6 linked regions of the Homo sapiens genome follow. The protein of the gene in region 1 purifies or fractionates together with the protein of each later gene. This does not show direct contact. Each region holds a gene or a part of one and is shown in the gene's direction. Other genes may lie near its edges.

Region 1 (3,453 bases):
CAAGGCCTGCTTAGCTTCCGTGAGAATAACAGGTGTGTGTAACAACTCATCCTGACCCCAGCGGCTTCTGTGCTCAGTTAGCTAGGTGTTATTTATAATACCAAGTGTGGCTTGGGTGTCTCAGCTCTTCAAGGATTTTGTAATTTGAAGGACTGTCTAAGGCCTCCAAGCTGTCACCTGTCAGAAGAGAAGGAAGCATATGCTGGGGATTAAGCAGTCCCTGAGAGGACCCTGGGTGCTGGAGGCCCAGACAGAAAACTCACCATTGGGAGGTAGAGGTGGGAGCAGTCCTGGGCAAGGGGCCATCTGTTGAGTGGGGAAGAGGCCACTGAGCGAGTGGAAAACAGGGAGGGAAGCAAATAATGGCCATGGCTGCTACAGGTATGTTTTACAAGTCATTTTGAAACCTGCTCATTAGGACGGGATGGAGTGACAGGACTCCTTGTGAGCTGCTAGCCTCACTTGCCTATGAAATTATGAAATAATAATGAGTGCTATAATAGCTAACACTCCACAGAGCTGGCGCCGGGCCCTATTTTCAGTGCTACACACAAGCATATAACTCATTCACTCCTTACATAACAACCCTGTTATTTTTCCCATTCTACAGACAAGGAAACTGAGGCTGAGCAACTGGCCTGAGGCACGGAGCTCGTACATAAGCAGGGCTGGGATGCACCCAGCCTGGCCCCCGAGTGCCACTTCCCACGTACTCTCCCGTGGGCCACGTTCACCACATGAATGTTGGCAGGGACCAGCCTCGGGAGAACATTCAGCACAGGTGCCCTAGCAAAGCACACCCAAGAAATCAACGGCAGTCCTTGAAAAGTGGAACATTTGTAGCCAGACAGACTTCAGACACCCCAGTTAACATATTTAGGTGTCTTTTTGGTAGATAATCTTTAAGAAAACTTGTGTGGTACTTTGCTTAAGCATCAGACGGCCTTTAGAGAGCAGGCCAGCCCTTCTGCGGTTGTCTTATCCTACTTAAAAAGACAGTGGTCTCAATTAGTACAACATTTTTAAAAAGGTTCCATGTTGGCCGGGCACAGTGGCTGCTCACGCCTGTAATCCCAGCACTTTGGGAAGCCAAGGTGGGAGCATTGCTTGAGGCCAGGAGTTCAAGACCAGCCTGAGCAACATAGCGAGACTACAAAAGAAGGAAACATGTTTGAGGAAGAATGAAAGGAATGGGGCTAGAAGTCAGCAGAAGCATAATAACAATCAGAGATAAATAAGGTCAACAGCAAATGATTGAGCCCTACTAATTCATAAGTAAATATCAGGATAAAAATATTTGCCACCTTTTAAAGCTATTCATAGTAAGCTCAGGAGGAATTAGACATCTGTGAACCTCTTTACTTTGAGCCAGTTTCTTAAGTTGTAATTTAAAAGATCCATATGTTTTCTGGCTGATTCCCTTCACATTGTCTTGAGACTCTACTCCAGAGTAGTGGCTGAACATGGCGGATTAGAAATTACATTCCCCTGCCCTCCACTCTGCGTGCATTTTACTTCTTCCCGTGTACCACACCTCATATTCCCAGTCACTCAAGCAGTCTGTTTTTAGTTTCTGCCTCTTGTTAGGACACAATCTCATGCAGAGGAACTTTGTGACTACTTTGCAGGAAAAAGAGGGATAACATCACTCTCTTCATTGCATGAGAATGATGCTAAATCTGTGTGGGGTGCCAAGAGGGAATGAAGGGGGAATGTGAAGTGTGGGTGAATTACTAACACTGTAAAGAATTTGGGTGGGAGGGAGAAGTCTCTAGAATTAAAACATGAGGAAAACCACTGATTAGACCGTGATTCTCACTCCTTAGCCAGGCAAAAGAGCCCAGAGATTACCAGTCTTACTCCTGCCCACTTGCCAAGGCTAGAAACTTTCCATAACTTATGGGAAGACTTATATTAGCTTTGATGAAGTACTGATGAAGCATATTGCAAGTAAAATCCTAAGTAATGCCCAAAACAAAGCAGACACATTGTAGGTGACTTGGAGGGCCTTTAAGAACCACAGTGGCTCATGCCTGTAATCCAACACTTGGGGAGGCCAAAGTGGGAGGCTCACTTGAGCCCAGGAGTTCAAGACCACCCTGAGCAACATAGTGAGACCCTGTCTTAACAAAAAACTTAAAAGCCAGGCATGGTAGCACGCACCTGTAGCCCTAGCTACTCTGGAGGCTGAGGTGGGAGGATCGCTTGAACCCATGAGGTTGAGGCTGCAGTGAGCTATGATGGCACTACTGCACTTTAGCTTGGGTGACAGAGTGAGACCCAGTCTCAAAAACCCAAAAAACAAGAAACAAAAAAACACACCACAGCAATCTCTTAACCAAACTTTGAGACCACTGACTTGGATCATGTCCTCCTAACTCCTCTGTCTGCTGGGGCTTCATGTCTTTTCATGCAGCAGACCCAGGCTGTTCTTGAGTAAACCTTGCTCCATGCTGCCATGTGTCTGGGCTGCCCATCTGTGCTGCATGTAATGAGCTCTTGCTGCTGTGCATACTGACCATGGAAAACCATCAGCTCTGTCCGGCCTTGCCGTCAACCCCACTTAACATTCACACATGCAATTAAAAACCACCAGCTGTTAGACAGGGAGAGATGAGTGTCTCAGTATCCAAAGGCCAGTTCAGCTCTAAGACAGAGGAAGCCTTTTGTGTCTGCCAACCAAGTAACATTCTCTTGGGTCTTTCGATTTGTTTTCCAGAATGATGACAACTTCTTAAATATAATCTATGAAGCCTATCTCTTCAGCATGACTCAAGCAGCCATGAAAAAGACTATGTGACAGCAAGGCCTTTTAAAACTGATTTTCAAGGTCCTTCTAGAACTCCGGCACAAGGTTCTTTCATGTTGAGTGTTGTTTCCTTCAATGTTTCTGCCTTTTTTAAAAAAAAAGTATGTGTAATATGAAGTAAAATGTTTCAGACTTTTTTTTATACTCAAGTGTTTTTTAATTATTATTATACTTTAAGTTCTGGGGTACATGTACAGAACATGCAGGTTTGTTACATAGGTATACACATGCCATGGTGGTTTGCTGCACCCATCAACCCATCATCTACATTAGTATTTCTCCTAACGCGCTTCCTCCCCTAGTCCCCCACCCCGCGACAGACCCCAGTGTGTGATGTTCCCCTCCCTATGTCCGTGTGTTCTCATTGTTCAATTCCCACCTGTGAGTGAGAACATGTGGTGTTTGGTTTTCTGTTACTTTGTTAGTTTGCTGAGAATGATGGTTTCCAGCTTCATCCATGCCCCTGCAAAGGACAAGAACTCATTCTTTTTTATGGCTGCATAGTATTCCCTGGGTGTATATATGCCGTATTTTCTTTATCCAGTCTATCATTAATGGACATTTGGGTTGGTTCCAAGTCTTTGCTATTGTGAATAGTGCTGCAATAAACATACGTGTGCATGTGTCTTGATAGTGGAATGATA
Region 2 (3,500 bases), on another chromosome or scaffold:
TATAAGTGAGTAGGATGCCTAAATAGGCTAAAATGAATGAAATTCTTATAAAAAATAAATTCTTACATTTAGTTAGCTTACCTGGATAATCATTCAAATGGAAACCAGGTTGCTACTGCACTGGGAAAAGAGACTTTATGAAGAACGATTATATAAGCCACTTGCCTTTAAAATAAGTTGTTCTTAAAATCAAGAGATTGGTGGAAGAATAGAAAAACAAGTAAATTGTTAACAGATTTCTTTAATCATCTGCTAAGTCTGGCTCATTGGCATAATTTATCTACTTCTTGATGTTAGTCACATAGTCATAAACTATTACCTTATTGGAGAGAGTGGAAGAGCTTTGTGTGATGGATAAAATACTTGCGGGGTGCTTTATTTGATTTCTTGCATTACTTGGGGATCTAAATCTAGCAATTCACAAAATTACTATCTAAAATGACAAAGATCTAGTGAAACTTCAAGCCACAGTTTCTTTTTGTTGCCCTATTTAGTGATGTTGCCAGTACTTGGAGCCTTGGAAACAGTTTATTATTGTTACATAGTCCGCAGAAATACTTGGTAATTCTGGGAGTCTGAAGTCAGGTGCCAGAAACTGTTCATTTTCTAGTAGGGGTAAGTAAGGTAAGCCATGATTTTCTAAGTCGGAAGTAAAGAAAACAGCATAAAACTGAAGAAAAAAAATAGTAGAAGGAAGGAAGTAGGAAGAAAAAAGAAATCTTATCTGTGCATGATACATAGCAGGAGTTTTGTATTTAACTCAGTGCCACAGTAATAATAGCAGTAACTACAGATAGTTTAACTTGAATTTAATTATTCCGTGCTAGAAGATGCTTGCTATAGAAACAATTTGTCTTTCTCTCATGATGCTATAAAATAATATATTAATTAGCTGTTTTAAAAACTAGATACCATTGAAGTAAATTTTGTTGTTGTTGTTTTGAGACAAGAGTCTCACTCTGTTGCCCAGGCTGGAGTGCAGTGGCACGATCACAGCCTTGACCTCCCTGGGCTCAGGTAATCCTCCTGCCTCAGCCTCCCAAGTAGCTGGGACCACAGGCACACACCACCACACCCAGCTAATTTTCTGTTTTTTGTAGATACAGGGTTTTGCCATGCTGCCCAGGTCGGTCTCTAACTCCTGGGCTCAAGTGATCTGCCTGCCTTGGCCTCCCAAAGTGCTGGGATTACAGGTGTGAGCCACAGTGTCTGGCTTGAAGTAAGTTTTTTAGTGGACAAAGTGTGAGTTGGTCTGTAAAATAATTTATTCCCAAGGGCCTTATTCTAGTTTTGTAGGGTTTTTTGTTTGTTTGTTTTTTTCTGGAAGAAAATGCGACCCAAAATGCCAGTTGGAATACTTAGCAGCTTTTTGGTCTTGGACAAGTTATTTAACCTTAGCTTTAACTTCTTCATCTTTTCAATAGGGATGGATAATAATGCCCATCTTTCAGAGTCATTCTGATAATTAAATGAGGTGATATAAAAGAAGTAACTAGTTTAATGTTGGTGCTTAATAGAGAATAGCTGTCCCATGTTATTTCCCACCACGATCTCCCTCTCTGTCTAGGTGCTCAGTCTCTCTAGTAGCCCAACTCAGTCAGTCATTCACACCTACTGTAGTCTACTGTCATCTTACTGCCTTTCACTGTCCTCTCATTCCCCTCATAACTTTACTTCCTTCTTTATCCTGCTTCAACTCCATGAGCAACCACGACAGTCAGTACACATTCCCTCAGCCCCCACCCCATTCCCCTCTTGCTGTCTTATACAAGAAATCACAACCCTGATTATATCAACACAGATGTGCTGACCAGCCTCACTCTAAATTTATGTTCGCTAGCCTCCGCAGTCATGGTCACTTCCTAGCAGTCACACTATACTTCCATAATCCATTTCACTTTTCTACATGGCTATTCCATTCATTTTCCTCAAGCCTCCAACACCTCCCCCATATTCACTTTCAGCCCCTTAACCGTGCTTTCTATAGCAGTTAACTGAGAAAAGAACAGCAAACGAAAGATAATTTTGATAAACTTACCCCTCACATACCCAGTTACCTGCATCTGTTCCCCAGACTTCTATGTTTTTTTCTGATCAATATGGATAAACTGTTCTTATTTCTGTCTAAGACCACCCTTCCACTTGTGCAGCATTTGTCCCCTCTTGGTGATTCAAGAACATTGCTCCAGCAGTTCTCTACTCTCCTCAGTTTTTCCTTCCCTAACGTATCTTTCTGTCTGCTTACAGATAGGCAGTTATTTCTTCTACCTTAAGAACAACCAAAAAACCCCACTGTACTTGAACTGAATTTCCTCTTTTCTAATGATTACCCCATTTCTATCCTTCCCTTTATAGCGAAACCCCTTGAAGAAGTTGTCTACACCACTGGTGTTCATTCATTTTTGAGCCCTGTTTACTAAGGTTTTTATTCCTACATATGAAGTTTTCTTATCAAAATTACCAAAGATTTCCATGTTACCAAATCCAGTAGTTAGTTCTTAGTCTCATTCTACTTCACCAGTCAGCATTACGTGGTACAGTTAGTCTGTTCTCTGTGAAGCATTTTCTTAACTTGATCGTATGCCATTTTTTTCCTCATATCTCACTGGTTACCTCTCAATCTCCTTGGCTGATTGAACCTGTAAGCCGCCAAATGTTGGGAGAGCTCCAGGGCTCAGTTATCTCCCCTTTTCTCTCTGTCTGTTAACATTTATTTAATCATCTGCATTCTTTTGATGATCTCATCCATCTAGTTCCTGGTTTCAAATACTACCTGTATATCACTGACTCCTATCTCTAGCCTGAATTTCTCCTCTGAACTCCTGACTTGTATATCCATTGCCTCTTTAACATCTCTACTTGTAGGGAAGTCTGCTAGAATCTCAATTCAGCATGCTCCAAACCTGTTCCTCCATCAGCCTTCCCCATCTAATCAAATGACAGCTCTATTCTAGTTGGTAAGACCAAAACACCTTGGAGCCATCCTTAATTCCTCTCTCTCTGTCTCACCTCATGTGATCCGAACCTATCAGCTCTGCTTTCAAACTAGATGCAGAATTTGACCTCTGACCACCCCTACTACCCTGGTCCATTATCTCTCACTAGTCTATTCAGAGATACTCAGATTCCTGTTTCTTGTTTCCAATATTGACCTCTCAGTTGATTCTTTCTCCTCCTCCCAATTTTACTTGAGTGAATCTTTGTAATTAAAAAATAAAATATATGGGAAATGTAGGTGACAAATTTTCTTAGTGAACCTATGTTTTCTTGTGCTTGACTGGTTGGTTGGCTATGTATTTCCAAATTAAGAGTCTTTTTTCTGTGGAACTTTGAAGTTACTGCTTTTTGTTCTTCTAATATTCTGGGGTTGCTGATGCCAGTCTGACTCTCAGTCACTTTTCTCTCTGGAAGCTTTTATTTAGAATTCTCTATTCCTGGAATTCACAAATGTGATCACACTGGTTTGTTGTTGTTTGTTTGTTTTTTGGTTTGGTTTGATT
Region 3 (3,410 bases), about 75 Mb from region 1:
GCATCCAACGCACACATCGTGAGACGTTTTTCAAGACACCCGGCAGCCTTGGAGACCCTGTCCTGAAGAGAAGAGAAAGGAACCAGTCACGAAACACCAGCTCGGCCCAGAGGAGACTAGAAATCCCCAGCGGCGGCGCTGACTAACCTGCCGCTTTGCCAGGTGGGGGTGGGATCAAACGCCCTGAGAGTCCCGGATGTCCGAGGCGGGATGCAAACCATCCCGTCCTGAGCACGGGTCCTTCCTCTCTCTTTCATCCACACTTCTGTTAACTTCCCACCACCATCAATCATCTGATTTCCTGAAAGTAATTAATTGTGCATTTAATACCAGTTAGAGTTCCGACTCTGCATGGTGTCACAGTGAAAGCGCCGACTGACTTATGGTTTTGATTCAAGAATCGTCTTATTCTGGAAGTAGATCTGAATAGGCTACCGGAGCCTTGTTTTTCTAAAGGGGGGCGCTGTCTAGCACTTAACTAGGGTAAGCATTCTTAACATGTATTTCCACTTGCCCTGAGTAAATCTGTGGTGAGAGAAGCTTCCTTTCTGCAGTTTAAAAAAGCTACTGCTTCCTTAGGCTTCATCAGGAAGCCACCTTCAGTTGTGAATCCTATGGTGTTATTTATTTTGTTCCTGAAATGGGATTTAGTGCAAAAAGTTTACAACTACAGTCTTTAACACATTTTTTTCAGGGTATGACGACTTGAATGTTTATACTTTTATTCTATAATTTGCCCTGCACTTATTTTACAACCTAGTAATAATGTGGATAAATGTATCTACATGACACATGTCAAGACCAAAATAACTGTGAATGACACACCTTGCTGTAAATGAACTGTGCTAACCCTGACTGTGGGCTTGAGAACAAAGATGAACTCTAGAACTCTAGCAGCCTAACTGCTGCTTCTCAAATAACTGTGTGAACAGTGAGATATTACTGTTTGTTTCTAAAAATCCTACTGTGCCCAGTTTCCTTCACTACATGCCCTGCATTTTTTATTTAAATATTTAGCTGTAGCGCCATCAGATATGGATGCCTTCTAACAATTGCTGTTTGTAAAATAAATCAGGATGGTAGAAAGTGATTATATGGAAAATTGGAACCTGGATGAGACCTTTTCGTTGAATTCTGAAGAGTAATGATGTGAAAATTGATACAGGGCAAGAGATGATTCTTTTGTTTTTCTTCTACTTCATGTCCAGAAGAGTAAGAGGGAAAATGGACATATGTTTCATATCCAAGGGTATTCAAACTGTAGTTAGTTGGTACCTCTGAAAAATGAGAATGGTGAGCGCACGGGTTGGTTGTTCTAGCATGAATACAATTCTGGAAACTGTTATGCAATTTCCCTTTTTTAACCCACATTACTTTAGGGGTGCATTAAGTCGCCAAACTATACTAGTTCTTTGTATTCCTAGACTTGCTGATATTTACCTCTCTCTTGTCTCTTCAGAGTAAATGGTTCCCTTCTTTCCTTCCTACTTTCCTTCATTCTCTCTTCCTTCCCTCCTTCCTACTTCTTTTCTTCCTTCCTCTTCCTCTCTTAAAACTATCTTAGATGTAGAATCCTGGTGTAGGGTTTTATTTTATTTTTATTTTTTGACCCAATAAAATGTTATATGAAAGAATGAAAATATTAATTTAAGAGACTCTGGGAGTCTGAATAAAGTAGCTTTATATTAACTACAGGATAATATTAGCCTTATTACCCCCACAAGATTTTTTAAAACTTGAGGTAGGTAGCTACATTAAATAAATTTGCTACTTATATAAAAATTTTTATCAACACTAAACTTTTAAAGTTTACAAGTTTTTTTTTTCTTTTTTACAGTCTTCTATAGAGTTAGGTTAAAAATGTGGTTCTAACCATCAACAATTGCATGGTTAAATGACCCTGAACTAAAACTGATGGGTTCCCTATCAAAACAAATAAAAATATACCTTTTTCAGGTTTCAATCTGTGCAGGGTATATGCATGTTAATTCTACCATGCTTAAGAACTTCCACAAAATATTTCATGGAGAGGTCTGCATTTAGACGGAAACAGAAATTGCTTTTCCCCTCACTGTTCCTGAATGCTCTATACTTGTTTTAACATTTTTGCTATCTTTTTTTATTATTCTGATCATGATATGACCATTTAACCTCAGAATTCATAATTCCTGAGGGGTGTTAAGAAGCAGTCCCATTGGTGAGGATATTATGACTTGGTGACCATTCTTAGGAGTAGAAAACCAAGGACAATTGCTTCTGTATTCAGTATCCACTTCTTAATGTGGCTTTATATGTAAAAATAATAATGCAGTGGTTGTTTCTGTCAGGAAAATAAATCTTACAGAACAACTGGTGGAATTGAAGCTGCTGCGCTAGACTTGGATATTTTGGGTAGTGAAGAAGCAATGGCAATCTTGAGTCTATTATTGTATAATTTAGTAAAAGAAAAAAATAATCGTTGGTGGTCCTACTAAGAGAATGCAGCTTTTTTGAGTTGTCACAGAGGCTGTGTGTGCCCTACACTGACCAGGGTTTGTAAAACCCTTTCATTCTGGTACAAGAGTCGGGGGTATAACTTTTATACTTGAATCTACCTACCAAGTTTACATTTCTCAATTCCTTTTTGTAAGGTGCTATTTCTGTATTTAAATAACTTTCTTTTAACGTAAAGCTGCTTTCTGCTTATCTTATTGCACTGCTAGTTGTATGTAGGTATTAATTTTATTGCTGCTTACTGCTTTTGTTTTCTTATTATTTAGCTCTGCTCTTTTTCCTAATGGCTATATTATCTATAGCTATTTACTTGTAACTGTACTACATGTAAACTGATTTTTTGTTCTGATTTTTTTTCTAATATTTTTAGGAAAATATTAAGCTTTATAAAATAGCAATAAAAAATAATTCATTTAAGAAGAGATGGTGGTTGTATTTTTTGGTAGGCTTTTTTTGCATACTGTTTTGAGTAAAACCATTAACAGCTACAACATAGCCAACCAGGCCCTCATAAACACAAGTCAGATCTTTTTGCTGAGATCACCCCGTGGTTGCTAAATGCTGAATCTTAGTGCATCAGAATTACATGGGAGCTTGCGGGGGTTCAGGTACTGTGTAACTGAGCTTCTGATTTCTACTAAGTCCCAATCTCTGTAGGTTTGGAGCTTCCAGATGATTCTGATGTTTATCCAGTCTAGGAATCACAGGTAAATGCAGACCACCCCTCAACTTCTTGTAGCATCCATTAAGTCAAATGCTTCTCATTTTAGCTAATGCCCACCTTTCATTGAGAGCCAATTTCTATTGTTAGCCTTACTTTTAAATTGACCTGCAAGAAGACTTAATCTGATGTCCCCCTAGCTCTTTATATCTCCAGAGTGATCTATGTTGCACTGTTGTCGGACTCCCCTGCTAAA
Region 4 (3,500 bases), on another chromosome or scaffold:
AGGACAACAAGCCTGTGTGTTTCAGGTACTTTCATGGTGATTTTTCACACAGGACAGCTTTTGATAATAGAAAGGCCCTCTCTTTCAAATGAAAGGACTTCACTGATGGATTAACAAATTCTCACCTTTTCACCTATGTGAGCCAAATACTAGATCTACTTTCTTAGTCTTCATAACAAGCAGGACGATAACCATAATTTATAATGAACACAAAACATTGATATAGTGTTCAAAGAACTTTTGCACACTTGGTCTCGTTTGGAAGAATGAAGTAATCTGGAAACATAGAATAGGCATACACTGTGACTTTAGGAAGAACTCTCACAAAATCAGAGGTTGCCCTATGTAATATCACACTTTTTACCTTGAGCAGGTGGATAGCCTGGGAGTTCTTGTTATACCTCAATCTTGGTCCATTCTATTTGTTCCCCTGTCCTTCAGCAGTGCCCTTAGGCTTGCTTTAAACATTAACAGCATTCATAAGCATGGTTTCTAGGGTCAGAGCCCAGCCTCCCTCCACCCACCCGGCTCCCTACACACCTTGACAGTGCTCTTTGAGATGCCTCAGTTCTAGTCTCCTTGTAATTGTGCACAGTAGATGTCTGAACAAATAGACCAGAGTCCTGCAAAAGTGATCTTGAAATCACAATTAAAAGAGACTTTGGAGAGATCTACTCAGGAAAATTTTCTGAATAGACAAATGCTTTTAAAGGGGGTTCTAGACAGTCCGTCTTTTCTGCCTCCTTCTGCGAAGTAGGGCTACACTAAAACCTTGTCACAATGTGACCTGAGCAAAACCATTATCAAGTGATTTAGTTGTCTTGAACCAGACAAAAGAAAATTGACATGATTTCAAGATAGGTTTAGAAAAATAATCTGACTAGCAAAAAAAAAAAAAAAAATGGGGGGTGGTTCCTAGGGAATATGAGACTTGATATTTTAGCAAAAATTTAAATATGCTCTTTATGATACACACATTTCTCGTTGCTTTACAAATTTTAAATGTAACACAAATTTGTTTTTCACACTGTTTTGTTAGTTGAGGTAAGGCATTCCTGCCGCACGCAGCAATGACTCGTCCTGGAAAACCAGGGAGGCTGCATATCCTACTGTTCCTTCTCTACTAGCTGTGGCTCCACACTCTCACCTCCACCAAAGAAAGCATTTCAGAATTTAGGGGTGGAAATGATGACAACATTGAATAATTCTATTTTTTTCTTTTTTTTGAGACAGAGCCACTGTCGCTCAGGCTGAAGTGCAGTGGCGCAATCTAGGCCCACTGCAGCCTCCGCCCCCCGGGGTCAAGCAATTCTCCTGCCGCAGCCTCCCAAACAGCTGGGACCACCGGTGCCCGCCACCATGCCCGGCCAATTTTCCGCATCCCTAGTAGAGACGGGGTTTCACCATGTTGGTCAGGCTGATCTCAAATTCCTGACCTCAGGAGATCTGCCTGCCTCGGCCTCCCAAAGTGCTGGGACCACAGGCGTGAGCCACCACGCCCGGCCAATGATTCTAATTTATATTTTTAAAAATTACCTTATAATCTTAAAACTTTTAACTGATGAGTATCCAACCCTTAAACTTTATAACAATCATTTCCAAAGTGGAAAAGTCACTGGGATATGGGGAAAAGTATGATTTGTTTTTGTACTTCTATTTTTCTAATGTCTACTTTTTGTTTTCTAGTCTACATGTTAGCACAGGAGTATATATATTACTTAAGTATACCTATGTTGGAGTGCATACAGAATTTCTTTTTAAATGATAGGATGCAAAATCAAATCTATTTGGATAGCAGTGAAGAGGCTGTTTTTCAATCCTGGCAAACTAGGGGGTGCATACCCCCTTTTTTATTTAGTAGCTTCCATAAGGCTATAACTCATGGAAGTTACATCCTTACATAAACTGATGGGCTATCCAACCAGTGAGGAAAACTGATAAAGTGGCCTCTGAGCTCCAGGAAGTAGTTAAACACTACTAAAAACATCTTGAAAATTTGGAAAAAAATTTAACAGTAAATGGATTCAGTAGTTATTCAGTATAAGGTTTGGAATAACTCCAGCCATTACAATAGACATTTATTTAAAGTAAAACATCTGCAGACCAAATAATTCTTAAAATTGTTTGTTTCAAGTTTAACCATCTTCATAACAGCTGCATCCACAGACTTCAACTACATGATTACTTCTTTGCCCATTCTTCTCTTTCTTTTCTTTCCCGAATAACCTCTTGCACATACAGTTCAAGGTAGAAATTTTCCTCTTCATATTTGGTCCACTGCTCTTTAGGCAAGATCTGATGCTTCATGGTCAGGTCCAATGCACTCTTAATGTGACACATCCTGTCATTATAAAGGTTCTCAGGAAGCCTTCTTATGGCTTCTTTTATGTCTTCATCCTCATATATTGTATCATCTCTCATTAACCCCAGTTTATTGAATCCTGCAGTATTGTAATACCATTTTCGAATACCATCCAGCCACTTGCCTGATGCTGAAATGGCCTGCTTGCCAGCCATTTTGACCTGCTTTAATTTTTTTTAATCCTTCTTATAACAAGATACAAAAATTATACACTGGCTGCTCATCCCAACAGAATTTGGCAATATAAAACATTTTCTTTCATTAAATACATAGAAAAAGTGTGGTTATTGATATTTATTGATGTAGTTATTATTGAATTTTATATTTGTGTTTTTAAAATTTTTATTTTTATTTAATTTCACACTTGAAAAACCAGGAATATTACAAAGAACTCCCAGAATGTCCTTTACCCAGATTCACCAATTAACATTTTATCACGTTTGCCTTATCATTCTGTTTTTCTCTTCCTCTCCTCCTTCTCCTATTTGACAGTAGTTTGCAAATATCATTCTCCTTTACCTCTTAATATGTCAGTGTGTATTTCCTCAGAATGATGATTTCCTCTTATACATCCTCAGTAAATGTGTCACAATCAAGAAATTTGACATTGTTTCAATATCATAATCTACGCCATATTCCAATGTTATCAGTTGTCCCAATAATGTCTTTTGTGGTTATTTTCTTTCCTTGGTCAAAGTGCTAATCCAAGATGATGCATTACATTTACTTGTCATGTCTCTTCAGTTTTTAATATGGAACAATTCCTTGACCTTTCTTTGTCTTTTATGTTTATAGAAAAACAAACTTAGTTTCTCTCATTATATTCTCACAACCCCACTTCTGACACTGATTGTGTGGAAAAAAAGTTTTTCTTTGGCTCTTGTACCACAGCAACCAACACAGAAAGCTTGTGAACAAATGTATTGGGATTTTTTCTCACCGACAGGCAAGTAAACAATTCTGCAGTGGACACCAGCTGGGTGTTCTCCAATCCAATTCAATTCTGAAGCTATCTCCCTACAGAAAGTATCAGATCCCACAGATTGAGGGCTTAGTCCCACGAGACTGCCTCAACTTTAGACATCAGTTTCAAATCTGGGCCTCTGGAACTTTTAACTGACCAGCTTCAAGTTAGGGT
Region 5 (3,500 bases), on another chromosome or scaffold:
AGACACGTACTCTCATATGGAGGGTGTGGCCTCAGTGTCCACAGCCTCAGTGGCTACGAGCTCATTTCCAGAGCCAACAACAGATGATGTGTCTCCATCTCTGCATGCTGAGGTTGGCTCCCCACATTCCACAGAAGTAGATGACTCCCTTTCAGTGTCTGTTGTGCAAACACCTACCACATTCCAGGAAACAGAAATGTCTCCATCTAAAGAAGAATGCCCAAGACCGATGTCAATTTCTCCACCAGATTTCTCCCCTAAAACTGCAAAGTCCAGGACACCCGTTCAAGATCACAGATCTGAACAGTCCTCAATGTCTATTGAATTTGGCCAAGAATCTCCTGAGCAATCCCTTGCTATGGACTTCAGTCGACAGTCTCCAGATCACCCTACAGTGGGTGCAGGCGTGCTTCACATCACTGAAAATGGGCCAACTGAAGTGGACTACAGTCCTTCTGACATGCAGGACTCCAGTTTATCACATAAGATACCACCTATGGAGGAGCCGTCCTACACCCAAGATAATGATCTTTCTGAGCTCATCTCAGTATCTCAGGTAGAGGCCTCCCCGTCCACCTCTTCTGCTCATACCCCTTCTCAGATCGCTTCTCCTCTCCAAGAAGATACTCTATCCGATGTTGCTCCTCCCAGAGATATGTCCTTATATGCCTCACTCACCTCTGAAAAAGTGCAAAGTCTGGAAGGAGAGAAGCTCTCTCCAAAATCTGATATCTCTCCACTCACCCCACGAGAGTCCTCTCCTTTATATTCACCTACTTTTTCAGATTCTACCTCTGCAGTCAAAGAGAAAACAGCAACTTGCCACAGTTCCTCTTCTCCACCAATAGATGCAGCATCCGCAGAGCCCTATGGCTTCCGTGCCTCAGTGTTATTCGATACAATGCAACACCATCTAGCCTTGAATAGAGATTTGTCCACACCTGGCCTGGAGAAGGACAGTGGAGGGAAGACACCTGGTGACTTTAGCTATGCCTATCAAAAGCCTGAGGAAACAACCAGGTCCCCAGATGAAGAAGATTATGACTATGAGTCTTATGAGAAGACCACCCGGACCTCAGATGTGGGTGGCTATTACTATGAGAAGATAGAGAGAACCACAAAATCTCCAAGTGACAGTGGCTACTCCTATGAGACCATTGGGAAAACTACCAAGACCCCTGAAGATGGTGACTATTCCTATGAAATTATTGAGAAGACCACACGGACCCCTGAAGAGGGTGGGTACTCATATGACATAAGTGAAAAGACCACCAGCCCCCCCGAAGTGAGTGGTTACAGCTATGAAAAGACTGAGAGGTCTAGAAGGCTTCTGGATGACATCAGCAATGGCTATGATGACTCTGAGGATGGTGGCCACACACTTGGGGACCCCAGCTACTCTTATGAAACCACTGAGAAAATTACCAGTTTCCCTGAGTCTGAAGGTTATTCCTATGAGACATCTACAAAGACAACACGAACCCCTGATACTTCCACATACTGTTACGAGACTGCAGAGAAAATCACTAGAACCCCTCAGGCATCCACATATTCCTACGAGACTTCAGACCTATGCTACACTGCAGAAAAGAAGTCCCCCTCAGAAGCCCGTCAGGATGTCGATTTATGCCTCGTGTCCTCTTGTGAATACAAGCACCCCAAGACAGAGCTTTCACCCTCTTTCATTAATCCCAATCCTCTTGAGTGGTTTGCCAGTGAAGAACCCACTGAAGAATCTGAAAAGCCCCTCACTCAATCAGGGGGAGCCCCACCGCCTCCAGGAGGAAAGCAACAGGGCCGACAGTGTGATGAAACCCCTCCCACCTCAGTCAGCGAGTCAGCCCCATCCCAGACCGACTCTGATGTTCCCCCGGAGACTGAAGAGTGCCCCTCCATCACGGCCGATGCCAATATCGACTCTGAAGACGAGTCGGAAACCATCCCCACAGACAAAACTGTCACGTACAAACACATGGACCCACCTCCAGCTCCCGTGCAAGACCGCAGCCCTTCGCCACGCCACCCTGATGTGTCCATGGTGGACCCAGAGGCCTTGGCCATTGAGCAGAACCTGGGCAAAGCTCTAAAGAAAGATCTGAAAGAGAAGACCAAAACCAAAAAGCCAGGTACAAAGACCAAGTCATCTTCACCTGTCAAAAAGAGTGATGGGAAGTCTAAGCCCTTGGCAGCTTCACCAAAACCAGCGGGCTTGAAAGAATCCTCGGATAAAGTGTCCAGGGTGGCTTCTCCTAAGAAGAAAGAATCTGTGGAAAAGGCAGCAAAACCCACCACCACTCCTGAGGTCAAAGCTGCACGTGGGGAAGAGAAAGACAAGGAGACCAAGAATGCTGCCAATGCCTCTGCATCCAAGTCGGCCAAGACCGCCACTGCAGGTAGGTTGAGAAGGCTGGGCATTGGATATATGTCACAACCATTCTACTTGCGTTTACAGCCTTTATATTTCCCTGTTTGGCTTTGTACTGGGAAGATGAGGGAGCACAATTGATGCTTTACCTTCCCTGTACTCTTCTCCTCTGCCCAAAGGTATATATCTCAGTCCAGTGTGGCCTTAAGGCTTGGAAATAGCTCAGTGTATGGTTCAAAGCAGCTGTGATTCATCACTGGGATTCCTGATTTTGTGCCGTTTTCGAACACAGCAACTACAGCCCTGTTCTAAATCTTCAGAACCAAGGATGTGTCTTTCAGGTGCTTCTGGAAGACTGGTTTCAGCCATACTGGCCTCAGAATCCAGCAGGGTAACACAGGCCAGGAGCTCCCAAAGGCCTAAGGAGAACCAGAGGTTTCACATCAAGACTGGATCAACCAGTCTAGACCCAAGATTTAGAGTCCTTTTTTAAAAAAAATTTTTTTTAAATTAAAAATGTTTACATTTTTATTTAAAACATCACCAGGTTGGAGATAAATCCTCATTAAAGGCAGTGTTCCATTTTCTTATCAGCCAAAAAATACTATAATTTCAGTTGACCAGTGAGTGTCCGGTGAAAATTGAGAGAAAAACATTGATGGCTCTGCTCTTACCCTTCTCTTACCCCATGGCCTCATTAGTAGAGACTCAATGCTATTTCAGATTAAAATTCCACTGGGAAGCTAGATGCATGGCCTCATGCCTGTAATTTCAGCACTTTGGGAGGCTGAGATGGAAGGTTAGCTTCAGCCCAGGAAGTTGAGACCAGCCTGTGCAACATAGCAAGACCCTGTCTCCACAAAAAAAAAAAAATGTTTTTTAATTAGCTGGGTGTGGTGGCACGTGCTTATAGTCTTAGCTACTTGGGAGGCTGAGGCAGGAGGATCACTTCAGCCCAAGAGATCAAGGCTGCAGTGAGCCAGAATTGTATGTATCACTGCATGCCAAGCCTGGGTGACAGAGCAAGACCCTGTCTCTCAAAAATAAATAAATAAGCAAATGAAATGCCACTTGGCAAGAGCAGGTATCCCTGATTTTTGATCATTCATGTTTTTGGTCATGATTCTCAGATTTA
Region 6 (3,500 bases), on another chromosome or scaffold:
AACTTGGTTTCTACCTACCACACGAGTAGCCAAAAGAAAAGAAGCACTAATAGAGAAAGGGGTGTCTCACACCAGACAGAGGACCTCTGCTGTCAATTAGATCCAGTATCATGACCTAACTTTAAGTGTGGAAAAGAGTTCAGATCTCTGAGACACTGTGAAGAAATGGATGGCTCATGTAACATCTCTGATCCCTCAGTCCCCAACCCTGGACGTGTTTCATTTACAACATTCATAGGAGTTAACTTAGCAGTGTTGCAAGTTAAGGTTCCAAACCAAATTATTTAATCAGTGTCCCCCCAATAAATCACTTATCCATTTATTGCTAGTTAGTTTTATTTATAGCAACTTGATTTCCTATGAGTATGGCTCCTGTTGTAAGAATTTTCCCACCTCTTCTGACATGAATGTAGCATAAGTTAGCAATCGGTTCTTCCAAACTCCTGTGGGTTGAATATGGTATAGAAGGTATGCAAGAGGAAAAAGAAAGGAAAAGATAAAACTCCTGCCTGAGAATTTGGAAGCACCTTTATTAACACATATATCTCGCAGAAACTAGAAGCTCATAGGCTGTTAACTTTTTGCAACTATTCACTCATTTTTACCACTTTTTTTTTTGGGTGAGGGGGTGATTTTTGTAAGGTTAACAGCCAGATTCCATTTTGACCTCAGATGCTGTGTACTTTTTAATTTCATTTTTTATATTCTGCCATCTTGACTCTTCTCTAAAACAGAATGAAAATGTCTGCATGCTGAGCAAAATGCTTACGCCAAGCCTGTTTTTCTCTGCAGAGTAAACAGGATGTTTTCAGCAGACTTGGCTCTAATAGCCATCTCTAAGATTAGGGAACAATTGAGTCTTTATGTAGAAAAGATCCATTTTTTCCCCATCCTCAGAGTTAAAATTCAACATTTAAAGCTTTATCGGTTATTGTTTTAGATTTGAGATTTTTGTTTTTAAGTATCTATAAGATCTTTAGAAGTGAGATAAATTTTTCGCTGGTTAAAAAAAATCAAACTTTCCTCTGCAGTGTTTTTGCCAAGTTTTGTCACACTTCATGTGTATGCATTAACTATACTTCTTAGTGTTACTGCAAAAAAAAAAAACAAAAACAAAACAAAAAAAAGCCTTGTTCTTTAATTGTGTTTTTCCTCCTGTGAGTGGACAACTAAAGCCGCGTGATGATGCGGATGAAAATATTCTGGTCTGTGTGTATACAATGAATTGTCAGTCTTCAGACCTCATGGTCGTTAAGAAAATAGGGAACTCACAAACCCTGCTGCGCACTACATTTACTTCTTTATCTGCAAGTACAGGGAGTCCATACAGTCAAGAAACACACAGATACACATAATGCTATTGAGGACATTGTCATTCTGTAAGAAAACAGAATATTATCTAGATTTCCAGAGTTAGTGCAGACCCTGTGATAACAGTCTGTGGGTTTGTGGCCAGCGCCAAAGGTGTGTGTATTTTCAGAAATGGTCCCTATTTGTCAGTGATAGTGTTTTTTTTTTCTTAAGTTTGACAAAGGGGGTGGTAATATCACATTCTTTAGATTTGAAATAATTATCAGCTCCAAGAATCTGTGAACATAGTAATAACAATAAAAATTCAACATCGACCCTCCCTAACCTGCTCACCATACCTCCCCACCCCATGCCTCTGAAGAAAGAGGCCATGAACCTACGAGGTGGTAAAGGGGGACACAGGTCAGGGAGTGGAGAGCTACTCCTCCAGCAGCTCAGCACCCACACTGCCCGCATGCGTGTGGCCACCGGGACCAGATCCCGAGTGATTGTGGCATACCCCTAATATTTGAGTAGTTTTTAAGCTGTCAGTCTCTTGTCATAACCTCCTACCGCCACCCAAAAAAGTAACGAAAGTTGCAGTAACTGCCAGTGTTTGCCTCACCAAATTTAAATCGTTCCCTTTTCAGTTAGCTATATACCTGAATTTGTTTTTAACAAGAAACTGTACATGGCCAGGAAAAATGGTACTACCTTGGCCAAAGGGTCTTTGCAAAAAGCTCAGTCTTCAGTTCTTCACTGTGACAAATGCTTATCTTGTTCATGGGAGGGGAAAGATCAGATAAATAGGCAAGAAGTACTCTGTTTTAAATAAAGAATAAATAGTGTCCGTTTAAAGCACTTTGTGCCTCAACTTCATTTTTAAACTGTAAATCATTGCTTTGGAAATAAATTCCCAATTATAATTGACCCATATCTAGCCAATATCAACAAGTTGGGATGGTTTTTGTTTTTTTCTTTTTTTTCAAAAAGGGAAATTCCTCTTTACTGCTCACAGTAAGCTGCAAAAGAAAGTTGTCAAGGTGGCTTATGATGCTGTTGTAGCAGAGCTGTGAAAGGAAGTGCTTTGCTTTCTCTCCCGCCTTCCGGAATCTGGCGTTCCTTCCCCTTCGGCTACTGAAAGGTGTGTACAACTCCCAGAGGGGTGGCTGTAAAAGTTGACTGGAGGCAAAGTGGAGTGGCCTTATTGCCAGGACTAGCCCTACAGAAGAGCTTTACAGAGAGGAGGACAGTACATCCTATGTGTGTTCGCCAAAAATGGGAAAGGTGGGTATTTAGGCAAAACAAAATAAAAACCTTTGGAACCCTTTAAGAAGTTACATACCTTTTAAAGGTAGTATAGTTTCTCACCAAGTGATGCATTTTAGCATGACACTTCTTGCCAGAAATTTTGGGATAAGTTGGAATAAATGTGTTTAAAACATCATCCACCGCCCTTTTTAAATTTTGTCTAAGGAATTACTTAAGTATAGTATTTCTGAATGTGCCTTTGTGAGTACAGAGACCGTCCGTTCTAGGAAGAAGCTATCCGTTGGATACAAACAAACAGACGGTCAGCTTTAGTCATTAGGGAAGTCAAAGTTCCTCCTGGAAGTCCCAGGAGCAGCTGTTGAGATTTCATTAGCATCAATATTGCACAGTGTAGAGTTGAGTGGAAGAGATTCTGGGACTTGGGAGAGGAGACAGGGGAAGGTACCCAGGCGACGCAGACCCACGTTAGTCCAAGAGCGCAGGTTTACACATCTGCATTCCCTAGTTTTCTCCGTCTGTATGTTTGTGCTCATGTGGCTTTGGCTGTTTTGTTTTTTGTTTTTCTGTAAGCACTGGAGAATTGGAATATGGTGATACTTGTGACACATTCATGCATGTAAACAAGGCATTTTCCAGCTTCTGCCGTGTGCAGAGCGGGCAGCACGCTTTTACCCTTTGAGTCTGTGTCCTGAGGCGGCCATTACATTCCCACATGGGCGTCACATCACGTTGCTGTTGATGCAAACAGGGTATTACACACAAGGAAAAGGGGTTTTGAAGAGTTAAGATTGAAGTGTTTGAGAAAGAAAAGAGAAAAATCTGAAATCATATTTTATTTCTTCAGAGCTATTATAGTTGAACACAGAAATCTGCAGTGTCTTTATTTGTTTTTATGTTTTAAACAATTTCACCTCTTCTCCCCACTCCTATCTTCTAAA

Evidence for each region.
Region 2: the proteins of DCP1B (region 1) and LSM14A purify together in Homo sapiens (affinity purification with mass spectrometry, with the first as the bait; one large-scale study listed by BioGRID). This does not show direct contact.
Region 3: the proteins of DCP1B (region 1) and E2F7 purify together in Homo sapiens (affinity purification with mass spectrometry; one study listed by BioGRID and IntAct). This does not show direct contact.
Region 4: the proteins of DCP1B (region 1) and NBDY purify together in Homo sapiens (co-immunoprecipitation; one study listed by IntAct). This does not show direct contact.
Region 5: the proteins of DCP1B (region 1) and MAP1B fractionate together in Homo sapiens (co-fractionation; one large-scale study listed by IntAct). This does not show direct contact.
Region 6: the proteins of DCP1B (region 1) and TNRC6B purify together in Homo sapiens (affinity purification with mass spectrometry; one large-scale study listed by BioGRID and IntAct). This does not show direct contact.

The regions. Positions count from the first base shown.
Region 1 is NC_000012.12:1,945,553-1,949,005, reverse strand, and holds the end of DCP1B (mRNA-decapping enzyme 1B), read left to right. Parts: intron 1-2,719; coding exon 2,720-2,800; 3' UTR 2,801-2,953; downstream 2,954-3,453. UniProt on the Homo sapiens protein: May play a role in the degradation of mRNAs, both in normal mRNA turnover and in nonsense-mediated mRNA decay. May remove the 7-methyl guanine cap structure from mRNA molecules, yielding a 5'-phosphorylated mRNA fragment and 7m-GDP.
Region 2 is NC_000019.10:34,179,004-34,182,503, forward strand, and holds part of LSM14A (protein LSM14 homolog A), read left to right. Parts: intron 1-3,500. UniProt on the Homo sapiens protein: Essential for formation of P-bodies, cytoplasmic structures that provide storage sites for translationally inactive mRNAs and protect them from degradation. Acts as a repressor of mRNA translation. May play a role in mitotic spindle assembly.
Region 3 is NC_000012.12:77,020,751-77,024,160, reverse strand, and holds the end of E2F7 (transcription factor E2F7), read left to right. Parts: coding exon 1-146; 3' UTR 147-2,910; downstream 2,911-3,410.
Region 4 is NC_000023.11:56,735,061-56,738,560, forward strand, and holds part of NBDY (negative regulator of P-body association), read left to right. Parts: intron 1-1,727; exon of another isoform or gene 1,728-2,524; intron 2,525-3,500. UniProt on the Homo sapiens protein: Promotes dispersal of P-body components and is likely to play a role in the mRNA decapping process.
Region 5 is NC_000005.10:72,197,975-72,201,474, forward strand, and holds part of MAP1B (microtubule-associated protein 1B), read left to right. Parts: coding exon 1-2,393; intron 2,394-3,500. UniProt on the Homo sapiens protein: Facilitates tyrosination of alpha-tubulin in neuronal microtubules. Phosphorylated MAP1B is required for proper microtubule dynamics and plays a role in the cytoskeletal changes that accompany neuronal differentiation and neurite extension.
Region 6 is NC_000022.11:40,327,925-40,331,424, forward strand, and holds part of TNRC6B (trinucleotide repeat-containing gene 6B protein), read left to right. Parts: 3' UTR 1-3,500.